Homo sapiens: one gene and its partners. The protein of the gene in region 2 purifies or fractionates together with the protein of the main gene of each other region. This does not show direct contact. Each region holds a gene or a part of one and is shown on either strand. Other genes may lie near its edges. The genes, in order: CHP1, SLC6A5, ARL6IP5, SURF4, TBC1D24, VKORC1L1 and RAB35.

The links.
Region 1: the proteins of SLC6A5 (region 2) and CHP1 purify together in Homo sapiens (affinity purification with mass spectrometry; one large-scale study listed by BioGRID and IntAct). This does not show direct contact.
Region 3: the proteins of SLC6A5 (region 2) and ARL6IP5 purify together in Homo sapiens (affinity purification with mass spectrometry; one large-scale study listed by BioGRID and IntAct). This does not show direct contact.
Region 4: the proteins of SLC6A5 (region 2) and SURF4 purify together in Homo sapiens (affinity purification with mass spectrometry; one large-scale study listed by BioGRID and IntAct). This does not show direct contact.
Region 5: the proteins of SLC6A5 (region 2) and TBC1D24 purify together in Homo sapiens (affinity purification with mass spectrometry; one large-scale study listed by BioGRID and IntAct). This does not show direct contact.
Region 6: the proteins of SLC6A5 (region 2) and VKORC1L1 purify together in Homo sapiens (affinity purification with mass spectrometry; one large-scale study listed by BioGRID and IntAct). This does not show direct contact.
Region 7: the proteins of SLC6A5 (region 2) and RAB35 purify together in Homo sapiens (affinity purification with mass spectrometry; one large-scale study listed by BioGRID and IntAct). This does not show direct contact.

The regions. Positions count from the first base shown.
Region 1 is NC_000015.10:41,279,328-41,282,387, reverse strand, and holds the end of CHP1 (calcineurin B homologous protein 1), read right to left. Parts: intron 3,053-3,060; coding exon 2,999-3,052; 3' UTR 501-2,998; downstream 1-500. UniProt on the Homo sapiens protein: Calcium-binding protein involved in different processes such as regulation of vesicular trafficking, plasma membrane Na(+)/H(+) exchanger and gene transcription. Involved in the constitutive exocytic membrane traffic.
Region 2 is NC_000011.10:20,627,108-20,630,607, reverse strand, and holds part of SLC6A5 (sodium- and chloride-dependent glycine transporter 2), read right to left. Parts: intron 2,629-3,500; coding exon 2,525-2,628; intron 1-2,524.
Region 3 is NC_000003.12:69,098,437-69,101,936, reverse strand, and holds part of ARL6IP5 (PRA1 family protein 3), read right to left. Parts: intron 99-3,500; coding exon 1-98. UniProt on the Homo sapiens protein: Regulates intracellular concentrations of taurine and glutamate. Negatively modulates SLC1A1/EAAC1 glutamate transport activity by decreasing its affinity for glutamate in a PKC activity-dependent manner.
Region 4 is NC_000009.12:133,360,964-133,363,512, reverse strand, and holds the end of SURF4 (surfeit locus protein 4), read left to right. Parts: coding exon 1-20; 3' UTR 21-37; coding exon of another isoform or gene 38-49; 3' UTR 50-2,049; downstream 2,050-2,549. Other genes in the region: SURF2 (surfeit locus protein 2), read right to left, coding at 2,374-2,457. UniProt on the Homo sapiens protein: Endoplasmic reticulum cargo receptor that mediates the export of lipoproteins by recruiting cargos into COPII vesicles to facilitate their secretion.
Region 5 is NC_000016.10:2,478,127-2,481,626, reverse strand, and holds part of TBC1D24 (TBC1 domain family member 24), read right to left. Parts: intron 1-3,500. UniProt on the Homo sapiens protein: May act as a GTPase-activating protein for Rab family protein(s). Involved in neuronal projections development, probably through a negative modulation of ARF6 function. Involved in the regulation of synaptic vesicle trafficking.
Region 6 is NC_000007.14:65,876,074-65,879,573, reverse strand, and holds part of VKORC1L1 (vitamin K epoxide reductase complex subunit 1-like protein 1), read right to left. Parts: intron 1-3,500. UniProt on the Homo sapiens protein: Involved in vitamin K metabolism. Can reduce inactive vitamin K 2,3-epoxide to active vitamin K, and may contribute to vitamin K-mediated protection against oxidative stress.
Region 7 is NC_000012.12:120,106,754-120,110,253, forward strand, and holds part of RAB35 (ras-related protein Rab-35), read right to left. Parts: intron 1,715-3,500; coding exon 1,664-1,714; intron 1-1,663. UniProt on the Homo sapiens protein: The small GTPases Rab are key regulators of intracellular membrane trafficking, from the formation of transport vesicles to their fusion with membranes.

The DNA of each region.
Region 1 (3,060 bases), on a different chromosome or scaffold from region 2:
TGTAATCCCAGCTACTCAGGAGGCTGAGGCAGGAGAATTGCTTGAACCTGGGAGGCGGAGGTTGCAGTGAGCCAAGACTGTGCCATTACACTCCAGCCTGGGCAAGAGTGAGACTCCATCTCAAAAAAGAAATGCAAAGAAAAAGCCATGTAAAACCAGAGTATGTCACCGCTGAGGCTGCACATGAATGAGGAGGTGGGCAATTTAAGGAATGGACATATACTGGATTTTTAGGCTTTTTCTACATTTAAGGAGTCAGGGAGTCAAGAATAGAAATTGCGTCTTAGCTGGAATGAATGGGAAGTGGCCACGGCTGACAAAACCATGTCGAAGCCAAAAGTGCTGGCCCCTCGATGAATGTTTCCACTTCATATATCCAGGCAGCAGCAGAGTAGACTGCAGCTGACCGTACAGACATAAACTTGAGTAAGGGAGACACTGTGATTTCAAACTTGAAGGGACTAAGTTACATAAAATTCTTGTAAAATGGACAAAAGTTATTTTGTTTCAACCACAAGTATTTATTGATGGATCGAAGATACAATTTTAATGGAACAATAAGGCACAACCGTGGATTAAAACACTTTGCTATACAGCCAAAAGGGGGGAAAATCTATAACCTTAGGAACTTTATGCCAATCAAGAAGCCTCTAAAGTACCTCTCTAATAGATCAGTATCAGACATTCTTCCCTTTTACATAATTCCTATATTACATCACTTAATCATAAAATCTGACTGATACTTCATAAAGAATTCCTCATTCATTTATATTTGAGCCATCCAGCCTGGCTACTCCCCTGTTCTCCACCCTTTTCCATCACTTTGCAGTGGTATTTTTTAGCAATCTTCAATAGTTTTCCAAAGCAAGGAAACAAGCAAGCAAGCAATGAGTCAGAAAGTCAACCAAGGGCAGATGTGTGGCTAAATACACTCATAGAGACATACATTAGGATAGCAATAGCCTGATTCACTGAAGTCTAAACTAAGCTGACTTGGCAGAAAAGTTGCTGTGGCTCGCTCAAAGATCTGTAATGCCACCTTAGGTTGTGCTACTAGTGCCAGACCTCTTGTTTTTAAGGGATTAGCAGTGGTCTAAACAAGAAGCCAGGGAGCTAATGTAACCAGGCAGCTAATGACACAACAGTCAATGCTTTGGACATGTATTAGGAGCAGACTATGGCTTCCGTCATTAACATTTGCCAAGTGTAAAATTCATAAAGAATTTTGCGGCTGAGCACGGTGGCTCATGCCTGTAATCCCAGCACTTTGGGAGGCCGAGGCAGGAGGATCACCTGAGGTCAGGAGTTCAAGACCAACCTGGCCAACATGGTGAAACTCCCTCTCCACTAAAAATGCAAAAATTACCCAGGTATGGTGGCACACGTCTGTAATCCCAGCTACTTGGGAGGCTGAGGTGGGAGAATTGCTTGAACCCAGGAGGCAGAGGTTGCAGTGAGCCAAGATCACGCCACTGCACTCCAGCCTGGGTGACAGAGTGAGACTCCATCTCAAAAAAAAGAATTTTGTGCAAAACTTCAAGACACTAAGGAAACAATCTTTAAATATTTTGGACTGGGGCCAGGCGTGGTGGCTCACACCTGTAATCCCAGCACTTTGGGAGGCTGAGGCAGGCGGATCACGAGGTCAGGAGTTCGAGACCAGCCTGGCCAACATGGTGAAACCCTGTCTCCACTAAAAATACAAAAAATTAGCCGGGCATGGTGGTGCACACCTGTAATCCCAGCTACTTGGGAGGCTGAGGCAGGAGAATCACTTAAATCCAGGAGGCTGAGGTTGCAGTGAGCGATCGCACCACTGCACTCCAGCCTGGGTGACAGAGCAAGACTCTGTCTCAAAAAAAAAAAAAAAAAAAAAAAAAAATTTGGACTGGGATATTAGGCACTTCCGTAACACTAATATTTCTACTTGGAAATGTGAAGTGGAAAACATTCCAGTGCACATAACACTGAGGCATAAACCATGCTGCAAAGGTGTGAATGCATGAGGCTTTATAGGGTGCCCAGCCTCCTTATTAAATAAAAGCCATGAGAAAGTCCCTAGGCATATTGTCAGAGCAGCCATTCTGGTGGTAACGGTGTCCCCAAACTAAGCAAACCTGTAAGCATACTGCTGCTTTTTCAACAGTCAACATTGCACTAACAAGAGGAGCCACACAGGTACAAAGTTGAGAATCAGAGGCCAGAGATAGAGTGATGTGGGCAAGCAACCTAGAAGACTTGGCTCCATACCTCTCACCAAGGCCACCTTTCAAAAAGGGTATCTCCACCCAGCAGCCTTTGATGACAGAGCAGAGTGCAGAGGATGGTCTCATACTTCTGAGAGAAGTATTGATTACCAAAAAGCTCCTGAAGAGGCAACATCCCAGAGGCCCATTTAATAATGAAGGTAAATAAAAACTGCCAGACCCCTGAACTATCCTGCCAAGTCAGAAATACATATATAGGACATAGCTTGTGGTGCCAAGTAGAACAGAGGAGATTTTGAGGCTTAATGAAAAGCAGAAAGACTGCCAGAGTAAGTGAACAGTATGTTGGAAGACAGGGAAGTAGGAAGCAAAGAACATATAAAAAGGATGAAGAAGCATGCTGGCAGACTCGCTGGAGGGAAGGCAGCAGGGCTACAGTCTACATCTGGTGAAAGAGCTTTGCTGGCTTGTTCTTGGCATGATTGCCTCTCTCACTTTCTCAGACTGGATGGATGTGTGGCATTCAGCAGCAGAATGGGGAAGATGATATTTATAAATGAAGAACTAGTGAATGGATACTGAACAGAAATATATAGGGTGTACCATTCTGTAATGCCCTGTTTATACACCAAAGGCAGGTTTGTGTTGACAGAACATATTTGGGGTTGTCATGCAACAGCAGTAGTACTTTGGGAGAAGGGGAATGAGGGGGTGGAGGTGGAGTTGGTAGAAGGAGGACTTTCAAGTTCCAGTTCTTAAATACTAGACCGCAAGGAACAGTTTGGTCTCCTTTAGTGAAGAAATCGGATGCTCATTTTCTGTTCTACATCCACCTTCTCCAAAACCTGGGGGA
Region 2 (3,500 bases):
CACATGTTTGTCTGCACATGTGTAGGCATATACGTGTACGTTCATGTCCTAACCACAGGCTCCCTTGGGCTCACTTAAAAAGCACCAAAAGGCTCAGACGATATCCCCTAATAGCCCTGATTCAGGGCCTGTGGGCCAAAGCTCTGACTCCACGATCTATATAAATGGGTCTCAACTCATCTGCTGTGGTCTGAATCCCCCCATCTCAAATTCATTGGCTGAAACTTAATCCACAATTTGATAGTATTAAGAGGTGGAGGCTTTAGAAAAGTGATTAAGTCATGAAGACAGAGCCAACTCATGGGATTAGTGCCCTTATAAAATAGGCTGAAGGGAATGTGTCTGCCTCTTCCACCATATGAAGACACAGCAACAAGGTGCCATCTTTGAAACAGAGAGCAGCCCTCCAGACACTGAATATTCTGGCACCTTGAACTTGGACTTCCCAGCCCCTAGAGCAGTGAGCAATAAATTTCTGTTGTTTATAGCCAAAAGTCAGTTAAAGATACAAAAATATAGCTAGGTAGGAGAAATAAACTCTAGTATTCTATAGCACTATAGGATGACTATATTAACAACCATCCCAGCCGGGCACGGTGGCTCATACCTGTAATCCCGGCACTTTGGGAGGCCAAGGCAGGTGGATCACCTGAGGTCAGGAGTTCGAGACCAGCCTCACCAACATGGTGAAACCCCGTGTCTACCCAATACACACACAAAAAAAAAAATTAGCGGGGCATGGTGGCACATGCCCGCAATCCCAGCTACTTGAATTGCTTGAACCTGGGAGGTGGAGGTTGCAGTGAGCTGAGATTGGCCATTGCACTCCAGCCTGGGCAACAAGAGCGAAACTCCATCTCAAAAAAAAAAAAAAAAATCATCCTACAGCACTATGAGATGACTATATTAACAACAATTTATTTTATGTTTTCAAACAGCTAGAAGAATGAACTGTCAGTGTTTTCAACACAAAGAAATGATAAATGTTTGAGGTAGTAGATATGCTAATTACCCTGATTTGATCATTACACATTGTATACATGTACCGAAATATCATACTGTACTCCATAAATATGCATAATTACTATGTGTCATTTAAAAATAATAAAAGCAAAAAACGTATAAAGAAAAAATATTACTCAGTCTATGGCATTTTGTTAGACAATCTGAACAAACTAAGACATTATTCCAGGGGCAGAGGTAAATCTGTTCATCAGAACAGAAATTGAGGAGATGGGGCCTTGGTCGGCTCCAGGACAGGAACTATGTGTGAGGGAAGAGAAGGCAGTGGGAAAGTCAAATGACCCTAAAATGTGAGGGTAGCCTGGAGTTGGGACACACAGGGTTGAGAAGGACAAAGGGGCAGGGGAGGGAAGAGAGCCCAGTGTCTCTACCTTCATCGCAGAGCCTGCTGCTGGTAAGATAGCCAGGGTTTCCCAGTCTACCTTCAGTCATCCTAGATTCAAATGTGAGGTCACAGCTAGACGGGCTACACTGTAACCCAGGGCTACACTGAAATCCTGGTTCTCCTGCCTTTTAGTGGCATGACCTTGAGCAATCCACTTCCTTTCCACTCTGATTTGAAATGGCAGCAATGAGTCTATCTGTCATAGGCTGTTGCCAGGAGAGAATGAGATGATACCTGTACTATGCACCGCCTAGCACAGAGCAAGTGTGCAGCAAATGATCCACCTTGTCTGACCCCTTAGTTTACTGAAGAGGAAACTGAGGCCCAGGGAAAGGTAATGGACTAATTAATAGTGTGGGCCAGGATATGAATCTAGATTTTCAAGCTCTCAGCCTGGGTTATTTCTGCCACACCACAGCCTCATTTCTAATAAAGAAGATAGCAATGCTTCACCCTTTAATGGTGTTCAGACTGATTTGGGTCAATGGTTAATGAGCAGTTGTGACTAATGAAGTTTAAATACCATAGTCTGTTACTCAAGGTCATTTTGAACTGAATTGTGTCTTCCTACCACTCCCCTATCACTACCAAATTCATATTTTGTCATCCTAATCACTAGCATCTCATAACGTGACTGTATTTGGAGATAGGGCCTTTAAAGAGGTAATTAAGTTAAATGAAGTCATTAGAGTGGTCCCTGATCCAATGTGACTGATATGACTGGGGTCTTTATAAGAAGAGGAGATTAGGTCACAGCCCCACACAGAGGGAAGACCATCTGAAGGCACAGTCCATTGTATCCACAGACTAGGTAGCTCACAAATGACTGTCACAGAACACAGCCAACTGCACAGTGACCTGCAGACAAACTTGCTTCCATCCTGTAAATAGCCACTGAGCCTCCCCCATGTGTCAGAGCCAGGTGTGTAAGTGAGGGTCCAGGCCTTCAGAAGATAGTGCCTAGGCCTTAGCAGGTGGTTTCTCCTAGGCCAGAGGCAAATCTTTAGCTCTCCCTAAGATGAAATGTGAGGATGTGGCCTCAGGTGTCTGATAACTCAGTCCATTCTTCTGTCCCACTCACCAGCTATGCCCAGATCTTGTAGTACCTCTACATACCTGTAGCAGTTGTTGTGGAATTTGTTGTAAGAAGAGAGAGTGATCAGGCCTCCCCATGCAGCAGATAAAGAGAAGAAAATCTGAGTGGCAGCATCTTTCCACACCTGAGAGGCAAAAGGGAAAGAGATTCAAGACCCATGAAGGAGACTGGCGCCAGGGGAGAGGAGTCACACACCCAGTGCCATATCATGTTTCCAGGGGAAACATCAGGGACAAGATGACCCCCGACATCAACATCAATGAGAACATAAATCACTTGTGCTGGAAACCAAAGGCATAGTCAATTACCTGGGAGATTTTAACTTCCTCTATCAAAGGTGAGGAACTCAATAAACTACACTACATACCATGCTCATATGTTCTCTCCTGTAAAGCTAAACGGAAGGGAGAGTCCTTCCTTTAGGTCAATACACTCTCAGAAAATAATAATTTACAACAGAAAAATATAACAACGGATGCAAAATCAAAACCCTTTTTAACTGACATTTCTGCAGATTACAACTGCTATTAAATTTCTGAAACTCTGTAGCCCCAATCTCAGTAAAGCAACCTCTATGCCGCTGCAGACTTTATAGTGTCACGTCCTACCTGCTATTAAGTGGAGACTTTCTGTTTTGTGCAATCAAACTCAATCCTAGCTATGCAATCTTAACACATCCTGGAAAAGCAGAGTTTTCCTTTAAGGTGAGAAAATTCAGTTCCCCTTCAACAATCACCCCCTCATTTGTAGTTTTTGAATTGGAAATTTTAGAGTTAGATATGCCTGTACAGAATATGCAAAGACAAAGTTCAGCTTGTGCTGGCCCTGTGTGGGTGCACAAAAGTATTCAGATGTGTCTGAGCCCTTAAAGGGTTCAGGTAAAAATATTTTTAAAATAGAATCGCTTGTGGTTTACACTAAGTGCTGTTATTTTCCCACCAGCAAAACTACCCTTCCGACACTCTATAATTAGCAACAGATAAGTGATGTGAGTTG
Region 3 (3,500 bases), on a different chromosome or scaffold from region 2:
GGCGAAGGACGTCTTTATTGTGGGCTGCCCACACAAACCCTGTGAACACCAGCACCACCACGATTCCTCCCAGGATCATGTTGAAGGGACTCAGAAACCTGAAATATGAGGAAGAAAAAATGAGGGGTGACTAGTTCAGCAATAGAAGTAGCAAAAGGAGAAAGAGGAGTAAAAACAATTATTGAGAACTTACTAATACTTTAATACTTTATCTAAATTGTCTCATTTGATTTCTCATAACCTTATAAAGGAGATACTATTAGTTCATTTCTCAAATGAAGAAGCTAAGGCACAGAGGTTAGAAAATGGTGGGGAAGGCCAGGAATGGTAGTTCACACCTATAATCCCAGCACTTTCAGAGGCCAAGGTGGGAGGATCACTTGAGCCCAGGGGTTCAAGACCAACCCAGGCAACATGGCAAAACCCATCTCTACAAAAATATGAAAATTAGCCAGGTGTGGTGGCACACACCTGTGTTCCCAGCTACTCAGGAGGCTGAGGTGGGAGGATCACTTGAACCTGGGAGGTTGAGTCTCCAGTGAGCCAAGATTCCCCCACTGCACTCCTGGCTGGGTGACAGAGTGAGACCTTATCTCATTAAAAAAAAAAAAAAAAAAAAAGGTGGAGCTGAGATCACACCCAGGCAGTTCCCATCAAAGTATCTCGTTAGAGGTCCACAATTTTGAAGACTAAAACTTCTTTTGAAGGTACTATGTTTAGCTTCCTTACATCCTGGGCTCTAGTACACAGTAGGTTGTGTTTTCTTAGCTCTAAAGGTTTATTTAAATCCTCAGAGAAGCTCATGATGGACGAATGTAGAATACAGGCCACATAATGGCCTCCATGGGCTAGATCCAGTATACAGTCACATTTTTGTTTGGCCTGTACAGTGTTTTAAAAAACTTTTACTTGAAACCCATGTGTTAAAAAAAAATCCAGAAAACTTGGGATTTCTTGTTCTCCTGGAACAAGAAAATAACAGTGCTAGGCCCACTTTCCCACATGTCAACAGCTGGCTTGAGTGCCTTCTCATTCAGACAGAATAAACAGTCTCCATTGAGCTCCAGTCCACACTGCTCTCTACTGCATCATGGACACATAGGCCCAAAGTGAGGTGCTATTAATCACTGTTTTTCTTTTTTTTTTTTTTTTATTTGAGACAGAGTCTTGCTCTGTCACCCAGGCTGGAGTGCAGTGGCGCAATCTTGGCTCACTGCAACCTCTGCCTCCTGGGTTCAAGCAATTCTTGTGCCTCAGCCTCCCGAGTAACTGGGATTACAGGTACATGCCACCACGCCCAGCTAATTTTTTGTATTTTCAGTACAGGTGGGATTTTGCCATGTTGGCCAGGCTGGTCTTGAACTCCTGGCGTCAAGTGATCTGCCCAGCTCGGCCTCCCAAAGTGCTAGGATTACAGGCATGAGCCACACCATGCCCAGTCTAATCATTGTTTTTCTAATAGCTGGCCTGAATCGCTCTCTTACATAACCTGCCTGCCCCATGGAGGCATTTGAGTTTATGACTCCTCACATAGAGAGTTCATTATAAGTGTTTTAAAATGCCCAAAGTATCATTAGGAGATGAGTTACCAATGCAGATTTTCAAGCACACAGTTCCAGATTCATTCTTATATAAGCCAAATGTTTAGTATGTAATAGCAATTACACTACTATTGATAATGGAGGAAACACATTATGTAGAAGAAATTTATGCCAGGCATGGTGGCACACACCTGTAATCCTAGCACTTTGGGAGGCCTAGGTGGGTGGATCACCTGAGGTCAAGAGTTCAAGGCCAGCCTGGCCAACATGGTGGCACCTCATCTCTACTAAAAATACAAAAATTAGCTGGGCGTGGTGGTACATGCCTGTAATCCCAGCTACTTGGGAGGCTGAGGCAGGAGAATCACTTGAACTCAGAAGGTGGAGGTTGCAGTGAGCTGAGATCACGCCATTGCACTCCAGCCTGGGCAACAAGAGCAAAACTCTGTCTCAATAATGATAATAAGAAGAAGAAATTTAGACAAAGTTTTGGGCATTATAGTCGCCCACCCCAATCCACTGTGTATACAAAACCCTTAACAAGACGTCTGTGGTGGGCTGGTACAATGAGTTACTTAACTTTTTACCCTAGAGGCTAATGAGGACTTTACTTGGGAAGGACACAGACGATAGTGTGTTCTCCTCATGCCCTGAATAGTAACATTGCTGATTTGAAATGAGGGAAGGGGGAAGACAGGATAAGGGAGGGTGATGCCAAGAGCTTACTTTCTCTGAAATGGAAGAGATGAAGAACTCATGCTCATATTGGGATTCGTATTCAGGATAAATACAATTCTTTTTCAAAAATCCCTTTAAATTTTAGCTCTGTTTCTGCCTACTGAAACATAAAAGGAATTTTGAACATTTTAAAATTAAGAGTAAAAGCTTTTCACACCTGAATGGGTGAAATTAAGGGATAAAATCAATGTCAAACTGCTTTGAAAAAGCTAAAAATTTCTATTAAGATGCACAAAGCTAAACAGTGGTAAGAGTAGTTGCATATAATTTTTTTTTGTTTGTTTTTTTGAGATGGAGTTTCACTCATTGCCCAGGCTGGAGTACAATGGCGCGATCTCGGCTCACTGCAACCTCTGCCTCCCAGGTTCAAGCAATTCTCCTGCCTCAGCCTCCCTACTAGCTGGGATTACAGGCACCCGCCAACATGCCCAGCTAATTTTTGTATTTTTAGTAAAGACGGGGTTTCACCATGTTGGCCAGGCTGGTCTCGAACTCCTGACCTCATGTGATCCACCCCCCACCCCCCCCGCCCCTCAGCCTCCCAAAGTGCTATTACAGGCATGAGCCACCGCACCCAGCCAGTTGTACATAATTTAAAACTAAACTCTACAATAATAAGTTGCTAATTTCATTCAAAATCCTTGCAAATACTTGTATCCTTCAAGCCAATAAATCCCCTCCTCAGAATATAGTCTAAGGAATTAAACAAAAACGCAAAGATTGAGTTGTAACAGTATTGATATTAGTGGTATTTATGATTAAAAACTTTCAGAAACGACCTATATGGCCAACAATACCAATAGCTGTGGTATTGTATACACAGCTATTTTTAAAACATTGAAGTGCATTTAATAATATGGGAAGACATTATATATTGAGTGGGTAAAAGCAATTGTAATACATAATGCATTGTCTGTTAGGTAGATTTATCATATAAGTTAGATAGCTCAGAAGTAGAAGTTTCTAGGCTGAGTACAGTGGCTCAAGCCTGTAATCCCAGCACTTTGTGGGGGCCAAGGTGGGTGGATCTTTTGAAGTCAGGAGTTTGAGACCAGCCTGGCCAACGTGGTGAAACCCCACCTCTACTAAAAATACAAAAATTAGCTGGGCCTGGGCTGGGCATGGTGGCTCATGTCTGTAATCCCAGCACTTTGGGAGGCTGAGGCGGGCAGATCACCTGAGGTCAGGAGTTCAAGACCAGCCTGGCCTACATGGTAAAAC
Region 4 (2,549 bases), on a different chromosome or scaffold from region 2:
AGAAGAAGAAGGAGTGGTAACAGTCACAGATCCCTACCTGCCTGGCTAAGACCCGTGGCCGTCAAGGACTGGTTCGGGGTGGATTCAACAAAACTGCCAGCTTTTATGTATCCTCTTCCCTTCCCCTCCCTTGGTAAAGGCACAGATGTTTTGAGAACTTTATTTGCAGAGACACCTGAGAATCGATGGCTCAGTCTGCTCTGGAGCCACAGTCTGGCGTCTGACCCTTCAGTGCAGGCCAGCCTGGCAGCTGGAAGCCTCCCCCACGCCGAGGCTTTGGAGTGAACAGCCCGCTTGGCTGTGGCATCTCAGTCCTATTTTTGAGTTTTTTTGTGGGGGTACAGGAGGGGGCCTTCAAGCTGTACTGTGAGCAGACGCATTGGTATTATCATTCAAAGCAGTCTCCCTCTTATTTGTAAGTTTACATTTTTAGCGGAAACTACTAAATTATTTTGGGTGGTTCAGCCAAACCTCAAAACAGTTAATCTCCCTGGTTTAAAATCACACCAGTGGCTTTGATGTTGTTTCTGCCCCGCATTGTATTTTATAGGAATAGTGAAAACATTTAGGGACACCCAAAGAATGATGCAGTATTAAAGGGGTGGTAGAAGCTGCTGTTTATGATAAAAGTCATCGGTCAGAAAATCAGCTTGGATTGGTGCCAAGTGTTTTATTGGGTAACACCCTGGGAGTTTTAGTAGCTTGAGGCAAGGTGGAGGGGCAAGAAGTCCTTGGGGAAGCTGCTGGTCTGGGTGCTGCTGGCCTCCAAGCTGGCAGTGGGAAGGGCTAGTGAGACCACACAGGGGTAGCCCCAGCAGCAGCACCCTGCAAGCCAGCCTGGCCAGCTGCTCAGACCAGCTTGCAGAGCCGCAGCCGCTGTGGGCAGGGGGTGTGGCAGGAGCTCCCAGCACTGGAGACCCACGGACTCAACCCAGTTACCTCACATGGGGCCTTTTCTGAGCAAGGTCTCGAAAGCGCAGGCCGCCCTGGCTGAGCAGCACCGCCCTTTCCCAGCTGCACTCGCCCTGTGGACAGCCCCGACACACCACTTTCCTGAGGCTGTCGCTCACTCAGATTGTCCGTTTGCTATGCCGAATGCAGCCAAAATTCCTTTTTACAATTTGTGATGCCTTACCGATTTGATCTTAATCCTGTATTTAAAGTTTTCTAACACTGCCTTATACTGTGTTTCTCTTTTTGGGGGAGCTTAACTGCTTGTTGCTCCCTGTCGTCTGCACCATAGTAAATGCCACAAGGGTAGTCGAACACCTCTCTGGCCCCTAGACCTATCTGGGGACAGGCTGGCTCAGCCTGTCTCCAGGGCTGCTGCGGCCCAGCCCCGAGCCTGCCTCCCTCTTGGCCTCTCATCCATTGGCTCTGCAGGGCAGGGGTGAGGCAGGTTTCTGCTCATAAGTGCTTTTGGAAGTCACCTACCTTTTTAACACAGCCGAACTAGTCCCAACGCGTTTGCAAATATTCCCCTGGTAGCCTACTTCCTTACCCCCGAATATTGGTAAGATCGAGCAATGGCTTCAGGACATGGGTTCTCTTCTCCTGTGATCATTCAAGTGCTCACTGCATGAAGACTGGCTTGTCTCAGTGTTTCAACCTCACCAGGGCTGTCTCTTGGTCCACACCTCGCTCCCTGTTAGTGCCGTATGACAGCCCCCATCAAATGACCTTGGCCAAGTCACGGTTTCTCTGTGGTCAAGGTTGGTTGGCTGATTGGTGGAAAGTAGGGTGGACCAAAGGAGGCCACGTGAGCAGTCAGCACCAGTTCTGCACCAGCAGCGCCTCCGTCCTAGTGGGTGTTCCTGTTTCTCCTGGCCCTGGGTGGGCTAGGGCCTGATTCGGGAAGATGCCTTTGCAGGGAGGGGAGGATAAGTGGGATCTACCAATTGATTCTGGCAAAACAATTTCTAAGATTTTTTTGCTTTATGTGGGAAACAGATCTAAATCTCATTTTATGCTGTATTTTATATCTTAGTTGTGTTTGAAAACGTTTTGATTTTTGGAAACACATCAAAATAAATAATGGCGTTTGTTGTATGCAGTGTGATCCTATAGCGTTGCCCAGCCTGAATGGGGCTCCCCTCAGGATGCCAGTGAGCGAGGTTACTTCTCTAGGCTTCTCTGAAGACCACTCAGAAGCCATGTCCAGAGAGAATTAGTCCCTCAGAGTCCCTGCTGCTTCCTGGGTGTGGGGGACAGACTCCCTCAGCCCTGCCTTAGAGGGCAGCAGATGTCATGAGACAAGGATAAGTGGGTAGAGAAGACACTGGGGACAGCCGATCATTCAGAGGACACACGGTTTGATCAGGAGCGGGGGAAATATCTGAAGGCTTTCTCGAAACTTCACGGCATGTGCTTTTATTAACCTGGCTGTTTACAGGAGCTGAAGCTCTTGGGTTTGCGGTGATGACTCTTGAACTTCTTTTTCAACGAGCCCAACTGCTTCTGTGGGATAAACAAAATTCTGATTACTGAGCCTTTCTGATCCCATGGAGAAGGGGCCCTGGAGTGCAGGGCTCTCCCCACCCACACAGCCT
Region 5 (3,500 bases), on a different chromosome or scaffold from region 2:
TTCTCCCCACAGCAGGTCTGGAAAAACACCCCCAGGACACAGGAGGAGAACCAGAGGAAGAGAGCTCAGCTGTCAGCAGCACAGGCATTTTGATTGGTCTGAGTTCCAAGCCAGTGACAGGTGTGCCTTGGAAGGCCAGGCACACATCAGGTTCTCAGCAAGTGTCTTTAGACCTAAGGAGAGATCCAGCTCGAGGTGGAGTTGTGCATGTTTAATCATTTTATTTTTATTTACTTTTTATGTCTGGTAGAGACAAAGTCTCACTATGCTGCCCAGGCTGGTCTCAAACTCCTGGCCTCAAGCAATCTTCCCACCTTGCCTTCTCAAAGTGTTGGGATTACAAGCGTGAGCCACCACGCCCGGTCCTAATCATTTTAATAGGCATTCAAGACATGCTTCCCGAATGCCAGTGTGCCAGGTACCTGAGTGCAGAGGAGTACAGAGGCATGGCCCCACCCCAGCCCGGGTCAGGTGTACTGACGATGCCAATTCAAGGTGCAGGTGCTGTGACACGGTGCTTTCCCAGCGCCAAGGCCTGCCTCGGCTGGATCTTGCAGTGTGAGGAAGCCTTAGCCTCAGAAGGGATAGAGACAGCGTGGTCAAAGGACAGGGCCCCAGAGGGCAAGTCTGGTCAGAGCTACCCAGCTCCATGAGAACGTGGGCCGGTGAGTGTCCTTTGGGGCTCTGACTAAGACACTTCTACGCTTCAGCATAACAGGCACCAAGAAGCCAAAGGGCCCAAAACAGAGGCCTGGGATTTACTAGGCTGCCAGGAAAGGACAGTGCCCCTGAGTGCTGGGAACATGGAGAGGACAGCCCAGGAAGCCGCCAGAGCAGAAAAGTTAATGTCCACACCTCGATCCTAAGGCCACAGGTTTACCAAGGTAGCAAGGCTAGAAGGACCCTTGCCGGGAAAGGGATCACAGAGGGTAATTAGGGAAGGGGTGGAAATGATTCAAGGAAAGGCTGAAGGGACCATGTGATGAGCTCCATTTACCATGCCACAGTGAGTGGAAGGGCTTTTACTGGAAACCGAATGGCCCACCAGTAAACAACCTCTCTCGGTGTGTGGCACCCAATTAAAATTATGTAACAATCAGGCAGACACACAGTCTCGGATTGTGGGAAATCTGTATCCTCAGTAGATTCCCAGGTCCCCTGTGGTGTGTTCTCAATGACCTGCAAGAAAAAGGGAACAGGCCGGTGTAGTGGTTCATGCCTGTAATCCCAGCACTTTGGAAGGTTGAGGTGAAATGATCCCTTGAGCCAGGAGTTCAAGACCAGCCTGGGCAACATAGTAAGATACTGTCTCTACAAAAAAATAAAAAATCAGGAAGGTGTGGTGGCAAGAACCTGTAGTCCCAGCCACTCAGAAGGCCGAGGTGGGAGGATGGCTTGAGCCCAGGAGGTTGAGGCTGCAGTGAGCCGTGACTGCACCATCGCACTCCAGCCTGGACAACAGAGCAAGACCCAGTCTCTTAAAAAAAAACAATTAACGACCAGGCACGGTGGCTCACACCTGTAATCTCAGCACTTTAGGAGGCCGAGGCAGGCGGATCATGAGGTCGGGAGTTCGAGAGCAGCCAGGCCAACATGGTGAAACCCCGTCTCTACTGAAAATACAAAATTAACTGGGCATGGTGGCACACGCCTGTAATCCCAACTACTAGGGAGGATGAGGCAGAAGAATCGCTTGAACCCGGGAGGCGGAGGTTGTGGTGAGCCAAGATTGCACCACTGCACTCCAGCCTGGGCAACAAGAGCAAAACTCCATCTCAAAAGAAAAAAAAAACAATTAACAAAAAGAGAAAAGAAAAAAAGAAGGGAACACACTGGGGAGGGTTGCAGGAAGCCATGGCTGCATATGCACAGTCCTCGGAGGCCATGAAGCCTGCGCCCCTGTGAGCAGGTTCTGTTGGAGGGTGTAGATAACAGCTCAAGCCTTATCCAGAGGCTCAGCCAGCCCTGGGGGACCACGTGCTGGCCACGGGCAGATAGGGGCTGCTTCTGCAGCACAGCCTTTCCCCGGCCTCATCCATTCCACCCCTCAGGTGGAGGACTCAGGGGGTGGGGGACGCATCACACACGTGGCCTCTGTTCTCAGCAGACTTTTTCCAAAGTTGTACCTGCTGCCAATGCTGATGGACCACACAGAAACAGGGTCCTGGAAGGAGAGTGAGGTGCCCCTGAGGGCTCTGCAGCCTTGGGTCTCTCGGTCTGAGAAGGCTTTTCTCAGAGCCCTACCTGTGGGAACGTCTGAGACGAGCAACCCTCAGACTGCAGGTGAACTAGGTCCTTTGAGAAGAGCGACACTGAAGCTGGAGGTTCCCCAAAAGGCAAATAGACACGTGAGACAGGAAGGCCACTGCAAGGACACTGGCATCCCCCCCGTCCCATACTCCATCCTTCACTCCAAGAGACAAATTAAAAGGCCAGGCCAGGCACCGTAGCTCATGCCTGTAATCCCAGCCTTTGGGAGGCCAAAGTGGGAGAACTGCTTGAGTCCAGGAATTTGAGACCAGCCTGGGCAACAAAGTGAGACCCCGTCTCTATAAAAAATGCAAAAATTAGCTAGGCATGGTGGTGTGCGCCTATAGTCCCAGCTACTCAGGAGACTAAGGTGGGAAGACTGCTTGAGTCCGAGAGGTCGAGGCTGCAGTGAGCCATGATCTCATGATCCCTCCATTGTACTCTAGCCTCGGCAGTGGGAATGAGACCCTGTCTCGAAAAAAAAAAAAAAAGAAAAAAGTCTATCGTCCCAGCTATTTGGGAAGCTGAGGCAAGGGGATCGCTTGAGTCCAGAAGGTCGAGGCTACAGTGAGCCACTGATCCTGACACTGCACTCCAGACTAGGAGAAAGAGCGAGACCCTGTCTCAACAAAAAAAAAAAGAAAAAAGCCCACTACCCTGCCCCATTCCCCCAAAAGGCAACGGGTTACTGACTGGCCTTCTGTTACCTTACTGACTTTAAGACTGTATTAGGAGTCCACAGGGTTCAGGATTCCGTCTCGTTTTTCTCACTCTGCACATTCTCCTGGGAAGACCCAACCCAGTCCCCAGCTTGGATGGCACACAGCATCCCCAAAATGCTCTCGTCTAGTACACTCTCCTTGGCTCCAGGCCAAAACACATATGCTTACTGCCCAGTCTCGCAGTAACCTCATCGCCATCTCCACACGGTGCCAGCCCGCCCCCTCCCTCCACACTCTGCATGGGGTGTGGCACTGCCCGCTGCTCAATACTGGAACATCCCCTCCTTCCTCCCTGGCTCTTCCCATCCTGCAACCACTTGTCTCAGAGTCTTGCTCTCTTTTTTCTTCTGAAACAGAGTTGACCAGGGTGGAGTGCAGTGGAACAATCATAGCTCACTGCAGCCTGCAACTCCTGGGCTCAAGTGTTCCTCCCGCTTTGGCCTCCCAAAATGCTGGGCTTGCAGGTGTGAGCCCCCGGGCCTGGCTGAGTCTTGCTCTTTTCTGTGCTGATGTCTCTCTGGGTGTGCC
Region 6 (3,500 bases), on a different chromosome or scaffold from region 2:
CTGGATCAAGTGTTAGTCTGCGTTGCTCAGTTTTCTCATGTGTAAAATGGTGATAAAAGCTACCTGCCTCATGGGACTCTTGAGAGACTTCAATAATGTATGCAAAACATTTAGAACACTGCCTAGCACATAGTAAGCATTATCTGTAAGTATTAACATTTATCTCTACTACAGTCCAGATTCACTTCCTTGTGATATTTCTCTATTCCTCTTGGACTCTTTTCAGTTCAACCTGCTTCTGAAATTTCCATACCAAGAAACAATGATAATGTTAAGAATTTTATTTCTGAAATTTATCTTGGTTAGTCAAAACTACTAGAACAAATTCTCTTTTACGTACTAGCAGTTATTAACATTTCACTAAATATGAACATAAGCATTTAAAGTATGGGAGCAATGGAACGAATGCCAAGCAAAAAGCAGGCTATCAATAAGGATGCATACGTGATACTTCCATGTTAAAAAAAGGGAGGAATCATATGGTCACGTGGATGTTTGTCTATGTGTCAAACGGCTCTGAAAAGTTTCACAGCGGTCTACTGAGCGGGAGAACTGTCTGGTGGAAGGGATATGAAGGAGACTTTTCACTGTACATGCTTTGTTATCTTTCAAATCCGAAGCAGCGAATGCCTTACCTAGACAAGAATTTAATTTTTCTTTTTTTTTGAGACAGAGTCTCACTCTGTCACCCAGTCTGGAGTGCAGTGGCACGACCTCAGCTCACCACAACCTCCACCTCCCGGGTTCAAGTGATTCTCCTGCCTCAGCCCCTCTCAAGTAGCTGGGACTACAGGCGTGTGCCACCATGTCTGGCTAATTTTTTTTGTATTTTTAGTAGAGACGGGGTTTCACCATGTTAGCCAGGATGGTCTTGATCTCCCGACCTCGTGATCCGCCCACCTCGGCCTCCCAAAGTGCTGAGATTACAGGCGTGAGCCACTGCGTCCAGCCAAGAATTTAATTTTTAAAATGGGGGTGCAAAGGGGACTTTAAATAAGTACTCTGGAAGCCAGGTGTCAAGTCTCAATTTGCTACTACCTGTGCTATCTTGGGCAAGTCACTTAACCTCTGAGTCTCAGACAAAGCAAAGAGCAGTAAATACTTCTAGGTTCTTTTTTTTTTTTGTAAGACAGAGTTTCCCTCTTATTGCCCAGGCAGGAGGGCAGTGGCACAATCTCGGCTTACTGCTACCTCCACCTCCCGGGTTCAAGTGATTCTCCTGCCTCAGCCTCCCGAGTAGCTGGAATTACAGGTGCCCACCACCATGCCCGGCTAATTTTTTGTATTTTTAGTAGACAAGGGGTTTCACCATATTGGCCAGGCTGGTCTCAAACTCCTGAACTCAGGTGATCCACCCACCTCAGCCTCCCAAAGTGCTGGGATTACAGGCGTGAACCACTATGCCCAGCCCTAGGTTCTATTCTAATTCTAAAAGTTTTATTATCTCAATGGGGTAGTAAATAGATGGTACTTTTTTTTTAAGATATGGGAGAGGTAGTAATCCGACATTTTGTAAAATAAGGCAACTTTTTTATGGACTTGATTTTCAAATGCAGTGGACCCTTGAACAACACGGGTTTAAGCTGTGTGTGCTCACTTATACGTGGATCTTTTTCAACCAAATGCAGACCGAAACCTGCATATATGGAGGCCCAAATTTTCACATTCAGGTTCTGCAGGGCCCACAGTGGGGACTTGAGTATGCCAGGATCTCAGTAAAAACAGGGGTCCTGAAACCAATCCCCTATGGTATATGTTCTATACATAGACCATAGGACAACCAGACTATTTTTACAGTTTTAAGAAACATAGATTTGTCAAGCCTATTAACCTTTCCAGATCATTTGTACTATTCTTACATAGAAACCCTTCTTAGAGGGGGTCTTATATATAGAAAATACCTACATAGAATATTCTGCATATTACAGCTGGACACGGTGGCTGATGCCTATAATCTCAGCACTTTCGGAGGCTGAGGCAGGCAGATCACCTGAGGTCAGGAGTTTAAGACCAGCCTGGCCAACATGGCAAGACCCTGTCTCTACTAAAAATACAAAAATTAGCCGGGCATGGTGGTGGGCACCTGTAATCCCAGCTCCTTGGGAGGCTGAGGTAGGAGAATCGCTTGAACCCGGGAGGTGGAGGTTGCAGTGAGCTGAGATCATGCCACTGCACTCCAGTCCGGGTGACAGAGCAGCGAGACTCCATCAAAAAAAAAAAAAAGAATATTCTGCATTAGTTTCTCTTGCACAACTTCAAAATTGTTTTAAATGAACACATCTTTATACTATGCTATAAAGTCAGCAATAAACTACATTAAAACAATTAATGTTTAAACATATAAACAAGTATGTACAAGAAACTTATACTTAAAGGCATTTATTATCAAACACTGGAAAAAAAAGAACATCTCCAATCAATGGTAACAGCTATAACTGAGGACAGGCTTTATTTCAGGAACATACATGTATCACTTTTCATCGTAACACTAATCTGGCAAAGTAGGTTTTTTTGTTTTTCTTTTTTTGAGACAGGGTCTCTCTCTACCACCCAGGCTGGAGTGCAGTGGCACCATCATGGCTCACTGCAGACCTCAGCCTCTCAGGCTCAAGTGATCCTCACACCTCAGCCTCCCAAGAAGCTGGAAATACAGGCATGCGCCACCATGCCCGGTTAACGTTTGTATTTTTTGTAAAGACACGGTTTTGCCCTGTTGCCCAGGCTGGTCTGAAACTCCTGAGCTCAAGAGGTCTGCCAGGTGTCAGCGTCCCAAACTGCTGGGATTACAGGTGTGAGCCACTGCACCAGGCCCTAAGTAGGTGTTAAAAGCCCTATTTAACATAAGAAACTGAGGCACCATGAAGATAAGGCCACAAGCCTAAGAACTGGGAGAGGTGGAAGCCCACCCAGATCCCTTAGATTTGAGCTCAGTGTACCAAACCAAGGGGGCAGGGACTGCTAACTGAATGTTAGCTGGCAGGCTGGTGCAGGTTTGCAGCAGAGTTTTCACCGATTTATGGGAAAATGGGAAAAAGTAAGGACACGAAAGTAAACTTTTTTTTTTTTTTTTTAAAGACAGAGTCTCGTTCTGTCACACAGGCTGGAGTGCAATGGCGCGATCTTGGCTTACTGCAACCTCTGCATCCCAGGTTCAAGTGATTCTCCTGCCTCAGCCTCCCGAGTAGCTGGGATTACAGGTGCATGCTACCACGCCCAGCTTGTTTTGTATTTTTAGTAGAGACGGGGTTTCAGCATGTTGGCCAGGCTGGTCTGAAAGTAAACTTTTCCATATAGCTAAATGATTCCATTTAAAAATATTTTATTCTGAGAGATTCTGTTCTTTCAAATTGTTTGAATGGAAATATCCTTTTGTTAAATGAAATGATGGTGACAGGAGATAGTGGTGTGTTATTGTTTTTACTGGCTGTACATGGTAGAATTGAAAAATCAGCATTTCTATTGTAGCCTACTAATTTCGGTGAAATATTTCTTTAGAAATA
Region 7 (3,500 bases), on a different chromosome or scaffold from region 2:
CATTTTTTTATTTTTAGTAGAGACAGAGTTTCACCATATTGGCCAGGATGGTCTCAATCTCCTGACCTCATGATCCACGCGCCTCGGCCTCCCAAAGTGCTAGGATTACAGGCGTGAGCCACCGCGCCTGGCCAACGGAATCACTTTCTAAAGGCAGCCCAGCCATGTCAGAGGGAATTCTCCACAAGATAATCAGAGATGTCAACCCCACCCAAAGCATCTGTAATGAACCTGATTTTTTTTGTTGTTTTTTGAGATGGAGTCTCGCTCTGTCGTTCAGGCTGGAGTGCAGTGGTGCCATCTCAGCTCACTGCAACCTCCCTCTCCCGGATTCAAGCAACTCTCCTGCCTCAGCCTCCCCAGTCGCTAGGATTATAGGTATGCACCACCACGCCCAGCTAATTTTTGTATTTTTAGTAGAGACGGGGTTTCACCATGTTGGTCAGGCTGGTCTCGAACTCCTGACCTCATGATCCACCCGCCTCGGCCTCCCAAAGTGCTGGGATTACAGGTGTGAGCCACCGCACCCGGCTGAACCTGATGTATTTAACAAACAAAAATGTGTTCCATCTTACCAGTGATTAGGGAAATACAAATGTAAACAAGTTAGCCCTTTTTGCCTATCAGCTCAGCAAGAATGAAGACAGCTACTAAGATCCAGCACTGACCAGGGTTGACAAGGGGCACTTTCCACCCTTCAGTGGGACTGGATTAAATGACTCCAGCTTCTTTGAAAAGCAGGTTGGCAGTACCTATGAAAATTCTCAGTGCATACACCCTGTAAGCCAGTAACCCCACTTCTACAGAAACACGTGCACAAGAATAAGTATCAGCTGGGCGCAGTGGCTCACGCCTGTAATCCCAGCACTTTGGAAGGCCAAGGTGGGTGGATCACCTGAGGTCAGACGTTCGAGACCAGCCTGACCAACATGGTGAAACCCCATCTCTATTAAAAATATAAAAATTAGTCGGGCGTGGTGGCAGGTGCCTATAGTCCCAACTACTTGGGAGGTTGAGACAGGAGAATTGCTTGAACCCAGGAGGCAGAGGTTGCAGTGAGCCGAAATCGCGCCACTGCACTCCAGCCTGGGTGACAGAGCAAGACTCCATCTCAAAAAAAAAAAAAAAAAAAAAAAAAGAATAAATATCGCCTATATCCCAAGTAGCTAAGCATCGCTGAAAACACAACCAGAAGTCAGGCACGATGTAACAGCAGCGTCAGTGCACCATGTGGTGCCTTCAAGCACAGAAAGCCCACCGCACTCAGATGAACCACAAAGGCCTGCATGTGGAGCGCAGAAAGAAATCAGAAAGACACACGCTGACCACAGGCTGCCAGGGAGGCATAGGGGGCAGGAGCAGGGACTGTGTCCCGGGTGGCACCATAGACGCTGTTATGGGAACCTTCCTGTTTGGACCATGGGTGGGAAAATGATGGGCCAGCCAAAGGGTTTTCGTGAGCAGGTGCATTAGACAGACCACAGAGGCTTCTGACAGAAGCGCCACAAGGTCCTAAGCCCCACTCCATCTTCTTCCCTCCTCTGGCAACCAGAATGAGACAGTTCCCAACATCAGGCAGAGGCAACTCTGTTTGGTGCCAGGGAGGGGATGTCAACAAACAAACAAAAACGACACCCCAGCAGCACTGCAGGGGAGGACTCACCTGAGAAAGTGTTGTCTGCAAAACGCAACAGTAAACTGCTCTTGCCCACACCTGCAAGAGAGAAAGCACTGCGATGAGGGGGGCAGGTGGGTCCCCTCCCCGCAGCCCCAGCCCTTCTTCCGGGAGAGGATGCCTCAGTCCCAACTCTTAAGAAGCTCGGTGGGACCCAGCTCACTTCTCAATGCTCTTTCCACCTCCCTGAGCGGCCACACACCAAGAACATCTCTTCCACTCGATCCCTGACCTTTTCCTTCGTCCTTGTGTAAGACAAGCTGCTCCCAAATCCCCTGGGGGAGAGATGAGAAAGGGACTGGTGCCCAGGCCCTAGGCTGAGGGCTGGCCCAAAGGGAGATGCCAGACGACAAAGCAGAATGAAGGTCAACCACACGAAACGGCCCCCAAGTGCGTCTACAACATGGTCCCTAGAAAAGTGCACAGCACGTTGTAGCACATCAGTTAGGGAGCCGCCCAAAATGAAGAGCTGTAGAGCGGGAAAGGACCCTTGAGATCATCAGGGCTATTTTGCAGGTGAGGAAACCAAGGCCCACATAGCTAGAACTCAATGGCTACCATCTTTCTGGCTGATGTCCCCGCCGGGTGGGCTGGTGGAGTGGAGGGTCTGCCTTATACCCATCAGGGCAGCAGCCCACATGTGCTCAGACCATGCACCAGCCACAGCAGCTCCTGGCTGCTTAGAGCACAAACATGTACACATCTGGCCTCCCCCACTTTTTTTGTAAAGAAATGGGGTTTCAGGCCAGGCGCGGTGGCTCATGCCTGTAATCCCAGCACTTTGGGAGGCCGAGGCAGGCGGATCACCTGAGGTCGGGAGTTCAAGACCAGCCTGACCAATATGGAGAAACCCCGTCTCTACTAAAAATACAAAATTAGCTGGGCGTGGTGGCACATGCCTGTAATCCCAGCTACTCGGGAGACTGAGGCAGGAGAAGCACTTGAACCCGGGAGGCGGAGGTTGCAGTGAGCTGAGATCATGCCACTGCACTCCAGCCTGGGCAACAAGAGCGAAACTCTGTCTCAAAAAAAAAAAAATGGGGTTTCATTCAGTCACTCAGGCTGGAGTACAATGGTGCAATCATGTCTCACCACAGCCTCCAACTCCTAGGCTCAAGTGATCCTCTGACCTCAGCCTCCCGAGTAGCTGGGACCACATGTGCATACCATCATGCCCAGCTAATTTTTTTATTTTTAGTAGGGACAGAGTCTGGCTACGTTGCCCAGGCTTTTTTTTTTTTTTTTTTTAATCTTTTGTAGAGACGAGGTCTTGCTATGTTGCCCAAGTTGGTCTCAAACTTCTGGCCTCAAGCAACCCTCCCGCCTGGGCCTCCCAAAGCGCTGGGATTACAGGCATGAGCCACTGCGCCTGGACCTCTCCCCTTGACTTCAACTCACAGTGCTTTCAGCCTGCCAAGTACACCTGTTCCATGTCCTCCTATCCTGTCCCCAATCTCCAACACCCCTGAGGCCAGCCAAGTTAATTGACCACAAAGAATTCACATGCATCGGGCTGTGTGTGTGGTGAGCCCTTGGATGCCTCTTTGATTATAATTCTGGCCACATCTCTTGAGATGAGGAACCTCAGGCCCAGAGTGGCCGGCCTAAGTGCCTCTGTGAGCAGCAGTAAAGCTGAGATCTGCATCCAGGCCGGACTCCTCCAGAGTGCTAACACTCCTCCCAATACACATTGCTGGGAGTCTTGCGTCTGGTTCAGGAAGTTTGGAAAAAATGACCTGTGGGGGCTCCAACATCTCACTCCTGTTAGATTTTTAATGAAAATGCCACGAAAGCTATGAAACCCCCTGAAACAAAGTGCAGATTT